2 separate regions of the Homo sapiens genome follow, and region 1 is linked to region 2. Evidence: fine-mapped expression QTL. A gene starts in region 2. The other region holds a variant in brackets. All regions are shown on one strand. Distances are from middle to middle. Region 1 overlaps CAMK2B (calcium/calmodulin dependent protein kinase II beta). Region 2 holds the start of POLD2 (DNA polymerase delta 2, accessory subunit).

Region 1 (5,365 bases), 110 kb after region 2:
GGAAACGGGAAATGGAGGAGACGTGGGAGACAGAAGGGAACGTGGGGGACAGAGGGGCATGTGGGGGGACAAAGTGGGGGTGTAGGGGATGGGGGGCATGAGGGGACCAAGGTGGGTGTGGGGGACAGAGGGGGGTGTGGAAGACAGAGGGGGTGTGGGGGACAGAAGGGGTCATGGGGGATGGGGGTGCGTGAGGGGACCAAGGTGGATGTGGGGGACAGAGGGAGTGTGGAGGACAGAGGGGGATGTGGGGGACAGAGAGAGGTGCAGGGGACAGAGGAGGGTGCAGGGGACAGAGGAGGGTGCAGGGGACAGAGGGGGATGTGGGGGACAGAGGGGAAGTGGAAGACAGAGGGGGTGTGGGGGACAGAAGGCGGTGTGGGGAACAGAGGGGGAGGTGGGGGACAGAGGAGAGTATGGGGGACAGAGGGGGTGTGGGGGACAGAAGGGGGTGTGGAAGACAGGAGGTGTGGGGGACAGACGGAGTGTGGGGGACAGAGGGAGAGTCTGGGGGACAGAGGGGGTGTGGGGGACAGGAGGGGGTGTGGAAGACAGAGGAAGTGTGGGGGACAGAAGGGGGTATGGGGGGCAGGGGGTGGAGGACAGAGGAGGGTGTGGGGGACAGAGGGGGATATGGGGGACAGAGGGAGTGTAGGGGACAGAGGAGGGTCTGGGGGGCAGAGGGAGAGTGTGGGGGACAGGGGGTGTGGGGGACAGAGGGAGTGTGGGGGACAGAGGAGGGTCTGGAGGACAGAGGGAGAGTGTAGGGAACAGAGGGGGTGTGGGGGACAGAAAAGGGCGTGAAGGGACCAAGGTGGGTGTGGGGGACAGAGGGGTATATGGGGGACAGAGGAGGGTGTGGGGGACAGAGGGAGAGTCTGGGGGACAGAGGAGGGTGTGGGGGACAGAGGGAGAATGTGAGGGGCAGAGCAGAGTTTGGGGAGGAAAATGGAAATGAGGGAAAGAGGGGAATTTGGGGGACAGAGGGGGATGTAGGGATAGAGCGTGGACTTAGGGGGACGTGGAGAGGTTGTAGGCTGACCGAGGGGGATATGGGGGGACGGAGGGAGACAGGGGGACAGAGGGTGCTGCTGCGGACAGCGTGGTGCGTGGAGAGGAGGCTGCAGGAGTGAAGGGCAGATGCTCTGGCTGTCGGGTGGCGTGGGCTGAAGCTGCTGGGGGCAGAGGGCACCCTCCAGGGAGAGGCTGCTGGCCAGCAAGAAGCTGTCAGGTAAGTGGCCCTTGAGGAACGCTGGACGGGGTTACAGGGAGAGGAGGGAGTCACGGGCGTTACAGAGGAGGCCTGGCCTGGCCCCATGAGGACAGCCCAGGTCAGCAGAGGCCAGGCTTATGATTCTCCGTACTATCCCCTTGTTGGTGAGCTCCAGAGACCCTGGTCGGGGTTCCAGTTTTGGCACCTTCCTCAGCCTCCTAGACTGAGGGAGGGTGCTCAGGGGTTGGGGCCACATCAGGAACCAGGGTGGCCCTGAGTGCAGCTCCTGGGCACCATGGGCAGGGCCCCTGGGTGGGTGTGAAGTCTGTGGGGCTGGGACAGTGATCAGCAGAGAGGGCCTAGGGGCATGGGGGGCCTCGGAGGGGCCAGGGCTGCCCAGGGCTGGGACAGACATTTTGGAGAGGGGCCTGGGGCTGGACAGCGAGCGGGGAGTGGCAGTGGGAGCAGGAGCCGTGGAGGGGTCTGGGCCCCTTAGGGAGAAGCCAGGAGCTGCCCTGCTGGTTAGCATGGGAGCCCACAGGAAGCCCCGCCAGGGCAGGACTCCAGGCTGCGGCGCCGGGGCAGGGTAGCTGGGCCGTGCATGCAGGTGGGAAGCTGCTGAGCGCCGGCCATTCGCAGGGAGCTGTCCGGCAGCAGAGGCGGCAGGCCTGGGGGCCACTACTTACACGGGGAGGACAGGGGGCCTAGGAGAGCCGGAGACAGGCAGGGCGGGGGCCCCGCTGAGAGGGGGCCCTCGGCTTCTGGGGTTCCTGAACCCCTTCTCACAGAGTTCAGGATGTCAGAGATCCTGGGGGCTGGGGTGGAACAGATGAGACGTGAACATGAGGCAGACAGACACACGAGGCGGCGGCAAGGCGGAGGAGGCCAGTGGGAGGGGTCCCGTGTTCTAGACCCCTTGGGCCCTGGGATCAGGCCCTGAATCAGAGCCTGCCTCAATAGCAGGGAGCCCCCCCGCCCGCAAGCTGAGGTGGAGTGAGGCCTGCACCGACCCTGAAGACTGGAATTGAGGCCCGAGCCTCCAGGGCCTCCCATCCTGCCCAGTGGCCTTGAGCAGG[A/G]AAGTGGTCCAGGGCCCTCCTCACAAAGAGGTGGGGCTCGATGGGCTGGGGCCACCCTGGAAAGCCCCAGTGAGGGATTGTGGGGTGATGAGGCTGGAGCCAGGGTCCACGCTCAGCCTGCCCTCGGCTCTGGAGTGGCCCCTCTAGGGGGTTGCCAGCCCTCCAACATGACCCCCACAGCAGCAGGACCCAGGCTACTTACATGGGGCTGGCAGGGGGCTAAAGGGAGCCGGAGATGGGCAGGGCAGGGGCCCCTCGGCTTCTGGGGCTCCCGAGCCCCTCCTCACTGAGCTCAGGATGTCGGGGACCCTGGGGGCTGAGGCGGAACAGGTGAGGCAGGCAGGTGGGTGGTGCGCCCGCAGGAAAAGAAGGCAACTGGAGAAGGACAGGGGGAGGCCAGGAGGGAGGGAGGGGGTGACAGCTGGATACCTGGGGCTCCTGGGGTGGAGGTGGGGTGGCCACCTGTGGGGGTCCTGGGCCTGTGGTGGCCGCAGCAGGTATGTGAAGGCTGAAGGAGCCAACACGGGACCGGTGCCAGAGCCAGAGCCAGCAGAGGCCAGGGCAGCACAGGCCAGTGCAGGCTGGCGCAGAGTCAGAGGCCACCCTGCCACCCTAGTGCTGTGACCACCCCTGGCCAGAGCCAGCAGAGGCCAGGCGCACGGAGAGGGAGTGACAGTCATCGTAGGGGCATGATGGCCACTGAGCCTGCCTGGACTCTGTACCAGCCTCAGGGCAGGCTGGCAAGGCTTCTTTCTGCACGGGGTGGGGTGGGGGGTGTCTGCCTCCACCTCGAGAGGCTGCTCGGGCTCAGATCTGAGCCACAGCTGCTGGCTTCTGGCTGTCTTCTCTTCTCCCCTGCAGGATCCAGGCTGGGCCCCCCTCCCAGGTCCCCTCCCTCACTGCTCAGCACCCCACTCGGCTGAGGGTGATGGAGAACCTCTGGACAGCCTTCATGCTGTTGCCTTTGGGGCCTGTTCCAGACTGCAGGGGAATCACACAAACACCCACTCTCCGGCATCCAGGGCCCAAAGTCCTGTGCTCATCTCTGCTCAGGGACAGTGTCATAGCTGGGTAGGCCGGGCAGGAGCAAGGCTATGCTTTGGACAGGTGAGAAGTTTTCTCCCCTAAACTGGCAGAGTGGCTGACCCTTTTTGGGCACCAGGGTAGCCCTGAGAACAGCATAAGGCTTATTAGGTGACCGTGTGAGCGATGAGGGTCAGGAGGCCCCATGTGGGTGGTCTGGAGGCGGCAGAATCCATGGAGCATGCCCCAGTGCCTGGTGCCCTGGGGGCCTCTTGGGGAACACACAAGACATTGGCCTGGGTGAGCAAGGGAGGGGGCCCTGGAATCTGTGGTGCAGAAACCCACCGCAGCAGGACACTCCTGGCTAAGCAAAGGCAAACACGGAAACACTCACCCAGCTGCCCGGCCACTTGGCAAGTGCATGCTGGACAGAAACGCAAGCTTAAGGAGCTTTAAGACAAGGACAGCATCTTGGAACAAATTCTACCCATGGGCCTGTTTCCCCGTGAGGGTCCTGGTGTGGAGAACCTGCCTCCATGCAAAGCCGTGGCTTCCTCACTTGGATGCGGTGACCGAGACTGCCCAGCTGTCGGTCATCTCTGCCATGCTTCTCCGCTCTGGGCAGGCCTGACACCCAGGCTTGGAGCAGGATTACAGCTACAGGGTCCCTGAGCCCCTCAACACATGCATAAACTAGGCGTCGCAGGAGAGTTGACCCTGCCCAAGTCCCACCCACCTCAAAGAGCAACCCAGCAATGCCAAGGCCGCTGGGGGGGCAAGGACTCAAGTGCAGGTACCTTTAGCGTCTTCATCCTCTATGGTGGTATTGGCACTGTCAGAAGACTCCTGAGGAAACACGGGAGGCAGCGGGTCAGGATGCGGCCAAGGATAGGTGGGACGTGGCTGAGGGCAGGTGGACAGGGCTGGGCCTGTGTCAGGACCAGCCCAGGCTCTGAAGCTGATCTCTGCCTCGGCTGCTTCCACGGGGCTTAAAGGCCAGGGGCTCAGGGGACATGCCCTCTGGCGGCTGCAGGGCCCCAGCTCTGTGGACCTCATGCGGCAGTGACCGGAGAAGACACCCAGTTCTGTGCTGGTCCCTGGGAGGGCGCCCCTCACCAGGGTGCATTCTCACGGCAGCCAGCACAGGCTGGCACGGAGTCCGAGGCCGGCCCTGCCACCCTAGTGCTGTGGCCACCCTGCATCCCCAACACATGAGGGCTCCACTTCTCCCAGCAAGATGAGCCTGGCAGAGAGACTGGTATGCTCAGCTGACTCTTTAACAAGAGAGGAAAATGGGCTTTTTGAAATTCCAAGACGTAAAACACAATGGGACTGGCTGGTTCCAATGAAGCAGCAGCCGGTGTCATCCAAAATACAGGGTGAGGCGTTCCCAGGAGCTCTGCAGATCCGCACAGGGCTCCAGGAACCTTGGCCTGGCCCCAGGCAGAGCATTCCTGTCGCCCACATTCCCTCAGGGCACCTGCCCCTCTGGGACTGGACGTCCAGTCAGGCCCCGGCCTCACCTCTCAGGTGGCCTTAGAGGGCAGAGGTGGCCCCAGACTCTCCCACCCTGCTCCAGGGCTGCTGCCCTTCAAAAGACCATCCCCCAGGTCCCCAGGAGGCCTGCTCTGCTCCTCAGAGGAAACATCTTACAAGGTCCCTGGGGGACCGCCCCCTGGTCTGGACACTGCCTGGACACTGCTTGGAGGCCCTAGACCAGAACTACAGGTCTTTAGGTGCAGGCTCAGAGTTCACCACAGCCCAGAAGGTTGTTTAGGAGTCCTGCAGAGAGCATGACCCACCCCAGACACACACGGGTCCCAGGGGCACCCATCCCCAGCTGCCAGATGGGAAGAATGCCCAGGCCCTGGTGCCTAGCACCATGGGTGCCCCTTGGACCCCCTGGTCCCTGCCATGGAGAAAGATGTCTTCTGATGATGGGCTGGGTGGTGGCACTGGCCAGAAGGAAGTGGGGGGTCCCCACAGAGGCACTCTGGGGCTCTGTAAGGAGCCCAGGCCTAGGTGGGAGCTGGGCTGGAGGGCCGTGTTGGGT
Region 2 (5,365 bases):
GATCTGATGGTTTAAAAATGGTTGGCAGTTCCCCTTGCTCTCTCTCTCCTGCTATCATGTAAAAGAGCCTTGCTTTCCCTTCACCTTCTGCCATGATTGTTAAGTTTCCTGAGGCCTCCCCAGCCATGAGGAACTGTGAGTCAATTAAACCTCTTTTCTTTATAAATTACCCTATCTCAGGTAGTTTTTTATAGCAATGTGAAAATGGACTAATACATATCCCTAATGAATTTGAGGTTCTAGCTAGATTTCTAGGCCCAGGGTTCTCCTGCCTGCCTATAACGAGAATTGATCTTGGCTTGGCATGGGATGAGATGGGCTTCTCAAAGCTCCCCAGGGGATTCCAATGTGCAACTAGGGCTGAGATCCATTTTGCCTGGTGCCAAGGACAGTAAAAATGAGTAAGACCTGGTCTCACCTACTAAATCCTCAGTTTAAAAATATAATAGGAGATGGATTTGAAAATTACCTGGAAAGCCACTCTTATGTAAGTGGTAGGAATGGGGGAATGCAGCAGCACCTAAAACTCAAATAAACTCAAAGGGGGAGATGGGGGTCCCTGCTTCACCACCAAGAGTAATCCAACTGCAGGAGAGATCACCAGGGAAGAAATGGGGGCAAAGAACAAGGGTTGTGTTGGGCAGGCCACTTTATTAGGAAAGACAGAGGGCCCAAGGGACAGGAAAATTCATGGCCAGCAAATATGGGGGCCAGGAGGAGAGGCAAACAGACATGAGTGAACAGAGGGGGTCCCCTCGAGACCAGAGAGTGCATCCTCACCAGTCTTGGCTCCTGGTGCCTGGCGCCAGGCTTGCCACACTGAGGGGCTCTCTGGCTACAGCACAGGCAAATACCTGAATAATCTGCACTGAAGATAGGAAAACCATTTTCCTCTGCCAGTGAAGTAATCGCCATCACCGCCAGAACTAAGTCCTCATCTCCAACCAGCCTCTGAACTAAAACTAACTCCAAACCCACAAATTACTTAATTTAATCCTTGTTACTATCTTAAGAAGAAACTGAGGGAAAAAGAGGTTAATTTTCCCAAGGTAACAGGAAGTGGGATCAATTAGATAAACTGTTCCCATTCTCTTGCAGAACACTTCTAAGTTCAGGGATGCTGTGGGGGAAGCACCTTCCCAAACTCTCACTTACCCCAGTGCTGCTGGGCCCGGTTCTCCAGGAAGGGTCTCATTTGGATGAGGCGGGTGGCATAAATGTGGGCATACTGCCGGCTAAAGCTGCGCTCTCCTAGCCGGAAGGGTTGTGAGGAGTTGGTGTAGGTTGCCACTGGCACCCGGGCAAAGGTGGCATTGTTGGCTGATGGTGGGGACAGTAGAGTGTGGGCCCTCTGGGCAGCCTGCTCAGAAAACATGGCCACACTCCTGACTTGCTTGGTCCACACAGCTTCGCCCAGGCCAAGGAGGTTCACTGCGAAAACACAAAGGCATTCCTGCTGCCCCTGTCCATCCCCCAAAGCAGCAGCTCTCCTGGTGTCTCACTGCACCCAAAGGATACTGGGAAAAGAAGGAGAACAGCTGTAGTTGACACCAGACATTGTGTCCACTTGGAAATTTATCGTGCCTGGATACCGATGTCTCACCCTGTAGCGGTCATCCAAAAAGAGAAAAGGAAAGCTAGGAGTGTTTGTCCCATCTGGAGTTCTTCCCGAACCCTAGACTCAGGTGTCCTGTTCCATCTGGACAACTACCAGGGTCTCAATCAAGTTCAGTTTGCCCCAAATGGAATTCCCGATCTGCCTCCATCCAGCTCTCCGGCACCTGTCTCATTTCCAGACAAGAGGTCTGCCTTATTAAATAAAACTTCTGTGAAATAATAAGCCTATTATTAAATAATAATAGAACTAAACCAAAACCAAAACATAAATCAGTCACTGCTCTGTTCAAAACTCTCCAAAGTGTCCTCATTTCATTGAATAAGGCCCCAAGTCCTTACAACTGCCTATGAGATCTGCTCCACTGGTCCTCTCCCCTCCTGGTTCCCACTCCTCCACCTTGGATCCCTCCCCACAGCAAGGGGCCTCTGAACTCTTGCTTGCCCCTCTCCCGTATACTTATAGAGCTCACTTGCCCATCTCCTTCAAGTTCTTACATCTTTACTCAAATGTTACCTTGTGCCCTGCCCATCTGATTTACAACTGCAACTCTCCCCAGTACTTCAACTGTTATTGTTGTTTACAACATTTACCTTCTAACAAACTGTATATTTTAAATGTATTGTCTGCCTGCTCCAACTAGACCATAAGCTCCAGGAGAGCTGAGATTTTTGTGTCTTATGCCACTAGCCACCTAGGGCTACGAAGTACAGGAGATGTGGTGAGTCCAACTGTGATGTTTGGGTTGGACACACAATGGATTTCTAAGAATAGTACAAAGAATATCCCAATAATTTTTTCACATACAATTGAAATAATAGTTTGAATATATTTATGGATTTACTCCAATTGATTTGTTTCGTTTTACTTTTTTCGTACACCTACTAGAAAGTTAAAAAATTCCCTAGCGGCTTGCAATCTATCTCCACGGGACAGCACTGGCCTGGGACACAGGCTCCGCACACGTGTCTAACGAGTGACTCGTTAGGAGCTTTTGGCTCGAACGTGCTTGATGGCGGCAGCAGCCAGGCCGCGCTACTCGGGATGGGGCCGAGAGCGCCCTGGGGGCTGTCCCAGTCACGGCGGGTGCCCCGGCTCGGATCCACGCGGCAGCTGCGGGACGTCCGCCAAGACACCAGCCCACCGACCCAGGAGCCCGGCCTCGCGGCCTGGAACTGCCACCCCCAGCTGACCCCGTTTCCCTGGACCCCACTCACCGCGCGGCGCGCCGCATCCCGCCAATCCCCGCGCGCCTGCCCCGCCCATCGCCGCAACTCGCTAATCCCCGCGCGGCTTCCCCGCCCATCGCCTAATCTCACCAATCGCTGCCCTCCTCGCCCCGTCCGTCACCAGGCGCCTCATCCCGCCGACCACTGTGCGCCCAGTCCCTGGGACGCCCAGAGAACGCGGAGCCACACCCTCGGTTTCCTGGGCAACGCGGGGCGGGGGCTCGCAGGCCGGCGCCGCGGGTCTTTGGTTGGCGGCCGCGCGTGCAGGGGTTGGGCTGACGGGGGGTGTCGGCCTCCAGTGGGCTGACCGCGTCACCCCGTCAGGCCCTGCCCAAACCTCCCAGTGGTCGTCACCCCGCCAGACCTCCCAGTGGTCGGCCGCCAGCCTCCTTGGTGAAGCCCCCAGCGTCCCAGCTTTCCCCGCAGAGCTGCCCACTTGTAGCGATGGCGACACGCGAGGAGGATCCCAACAGAAAGAAGGCCCAAGGCCCACTAACTTGGCCGGGGAGAAGTAACTCTTCCTGAAGGGATGGCGCGGGGTCTCGGGGTTCCTCCCGTCCTGCCAGCGTCTGCGTCCGGGAAACGCATTGGCGGTTTCGGGGTCCTCCCTAGCTTGCCCACAGCTGCACACCAGCTTCCAGCCCAACACTCCCCAATCTCCAGTGTCCTCGTTGTCCCCGTTACTCATACTCGTTCTTACCACCACGTCTTTCTGAGTGCTGTCTCCCACTTTGGGAATACTTTTTTTTTTTTTTTTCCATCTCCACTAATTTATAGAATTCCTCACCCCATCAAGAGACGCTTCCCCACTAAGCTTCCCGGGCTCTTCCCGCCGCGCGCTGATTCTCCCAGGCGTCCTCTAGCGCTACTGTTCTGCTACTTCCCTGGGCCTGTTTCCTAAGTCCAGGTCTTGTCTCCACAACGAGTGGATATTAACACTCGTTAATTATTACTTAATATTTTAATTTTTGTTTTTGTTTGTTTGTTTGAGGCAGCGTCTTGCTCTGTGGCCCAGGCTGGAGTGCAGTGGTGCGATCTCGGCTCACTGCAGCCTCGAACTCCCAGGCTCCAGTGATTCTCCCGCCTCAGCCTCCCGAGTAGCTGGGACAACAGGCGCGCAGCACCACGCCTGGCTACTTTAAGTTTGTGTGTGTGTGTGTGTGTGTGCGTGTGTGTGTAGAGACAGGGTCTCCCAATGGTGCCCAGGCTAGTGTGGAACTCCTGGGCTCAAGTGATCCTCCCACCTCAGCCTCCCAAAGTGCTGGGATTACAGGCATGAGCCACCACGCCCAGCCTTATATTTTAATTTAAAATGTGATATTTTAATTATTAAACGCCTTTGCAACTGCTTTGAGGTTATGACACATTAATTCATCTGCTCCTCAAATAATCCTTTGGGTCAGACACAGTGGTTCACGCCTGTATCCCAACACTTTGGGAGGCCGAGGTGGGAGGATCGCTTAAGCCCAGGAGGCTGAGGTTGCAGTGACCTAAGATTGCACCACTGCACTTCAGCCTGAGCGACAGAGCCAGACGCTGTCTCAAAGCAAGCAAACAAACAAAAAACCTTTGAAGCATGAACTATTATTTTTCTCCCACTTTACACATGAGGAAATTGAGGCAGGGAGGGCAAGAGAGATCATGTAGCTAGTGAGTAATAGCTGGGATTCACACAGAGACAGCAGGACTCTTGCTGGTAAGGTTGTACTGTTCTGAGCCTTCACCTGAAACATTGTACATGTATTGGGCAAACAAATAATTTTACTTTTTCCTTTCCAATTCAGATGCTTTTTATTTCTTTTTTCTTACCTGATTACTCTGGCTAGAACTTCCCATACTATGTTGAGTAGAAGTGGTGAAAGTGGGCATCTTTGTCTTATTCCGGATCTTAAAGGGGAAGCTTTCAGTCTTTAGCATTAAATATGTTGCTAGCTGTGAGTTTGGGGATTTGGCCTATGGATTTTATTATTTGAGGTAGTTTCCTCCTATTCTTAGTTTGTTGAGCTTTTTCTTCTTTCAAAAGAGTGTTGAATTTTGTCAAATACTTTTTTGACATCAATTGAGATGACCGTGTGGGTTTTTTTTCTGTTAATGTGGTCTATTACATTTATTGATTTTTATGTTGAACCATTCTAGCATTTCAGGAACAAATTCCACTTGGTGGAATTACAAACCAAAGTTACAATAATACTAGCTTTTAATGTATTCTCTTTTATATAATTAATTTTACTTTAATTGCACCTGAATTTTCCTTTAGCATAGACCGTTATTTCTCCCCTCCAAGTACTAACCAGGCCCAACTCTGCTTAGCTTCTGAGATTGGACACATTCAGGGTGGTACGGCCATAGATGAGATCTTTATTCGTTTATTCGGCTTTTTTTTTTGAGACAGGGTATCACTCTGTCACCCAGGCTGGAGTGCGGTGGCACAATCTCGGCTCACTGCAACCTCCGCCTCCTGGGTTCAGGTGATTCTCTTGCCTCAGCCTCCCAAGTAGCTGGGATTACAGGCATGTGCCAC

What was found.
Region 1: its variant is fine-mapped to the expression of POLD2 in testis (GTEx, PIP 0.91).

Annotation. Positions count from the first base shown.
Region 1 is chr7:44,226,897-44,232,261 of GRCh38, forward strand. CAMK2B (calcium/calmodulin dependent protein kinase II beta) reads right to left here. Exons shown (of 24, transcript NM_001220.5): 17 at 4,110-4,158; 18 at 2,492-2,605; 19 at 1,900-2,028. Among named protein-coding and RNA genes, the nearest start is that of YKT6, 29 kb to the left of the region's middle. The variant A/G (reference allele first, on the strand shown) is at 2,290.
Region 2 is chr7:44,120,679-44,126,043 of GRCh38, forward strand. POLD2 (DNA polymerase delta 2, accessory subunit) reads right to left here and starts at 2,870. Exons shown (of 11, transcript NM_006230.4): 1 at 2,833-2,870; 2 at 1,156-1,431. The coding sequence starts at 1,375. It also overlaps the pseudogene RNA5SP230. RefSeq lists a silencer at 2,556-3,265 and enhancers at 3,052-3,956, 3,476-3,535.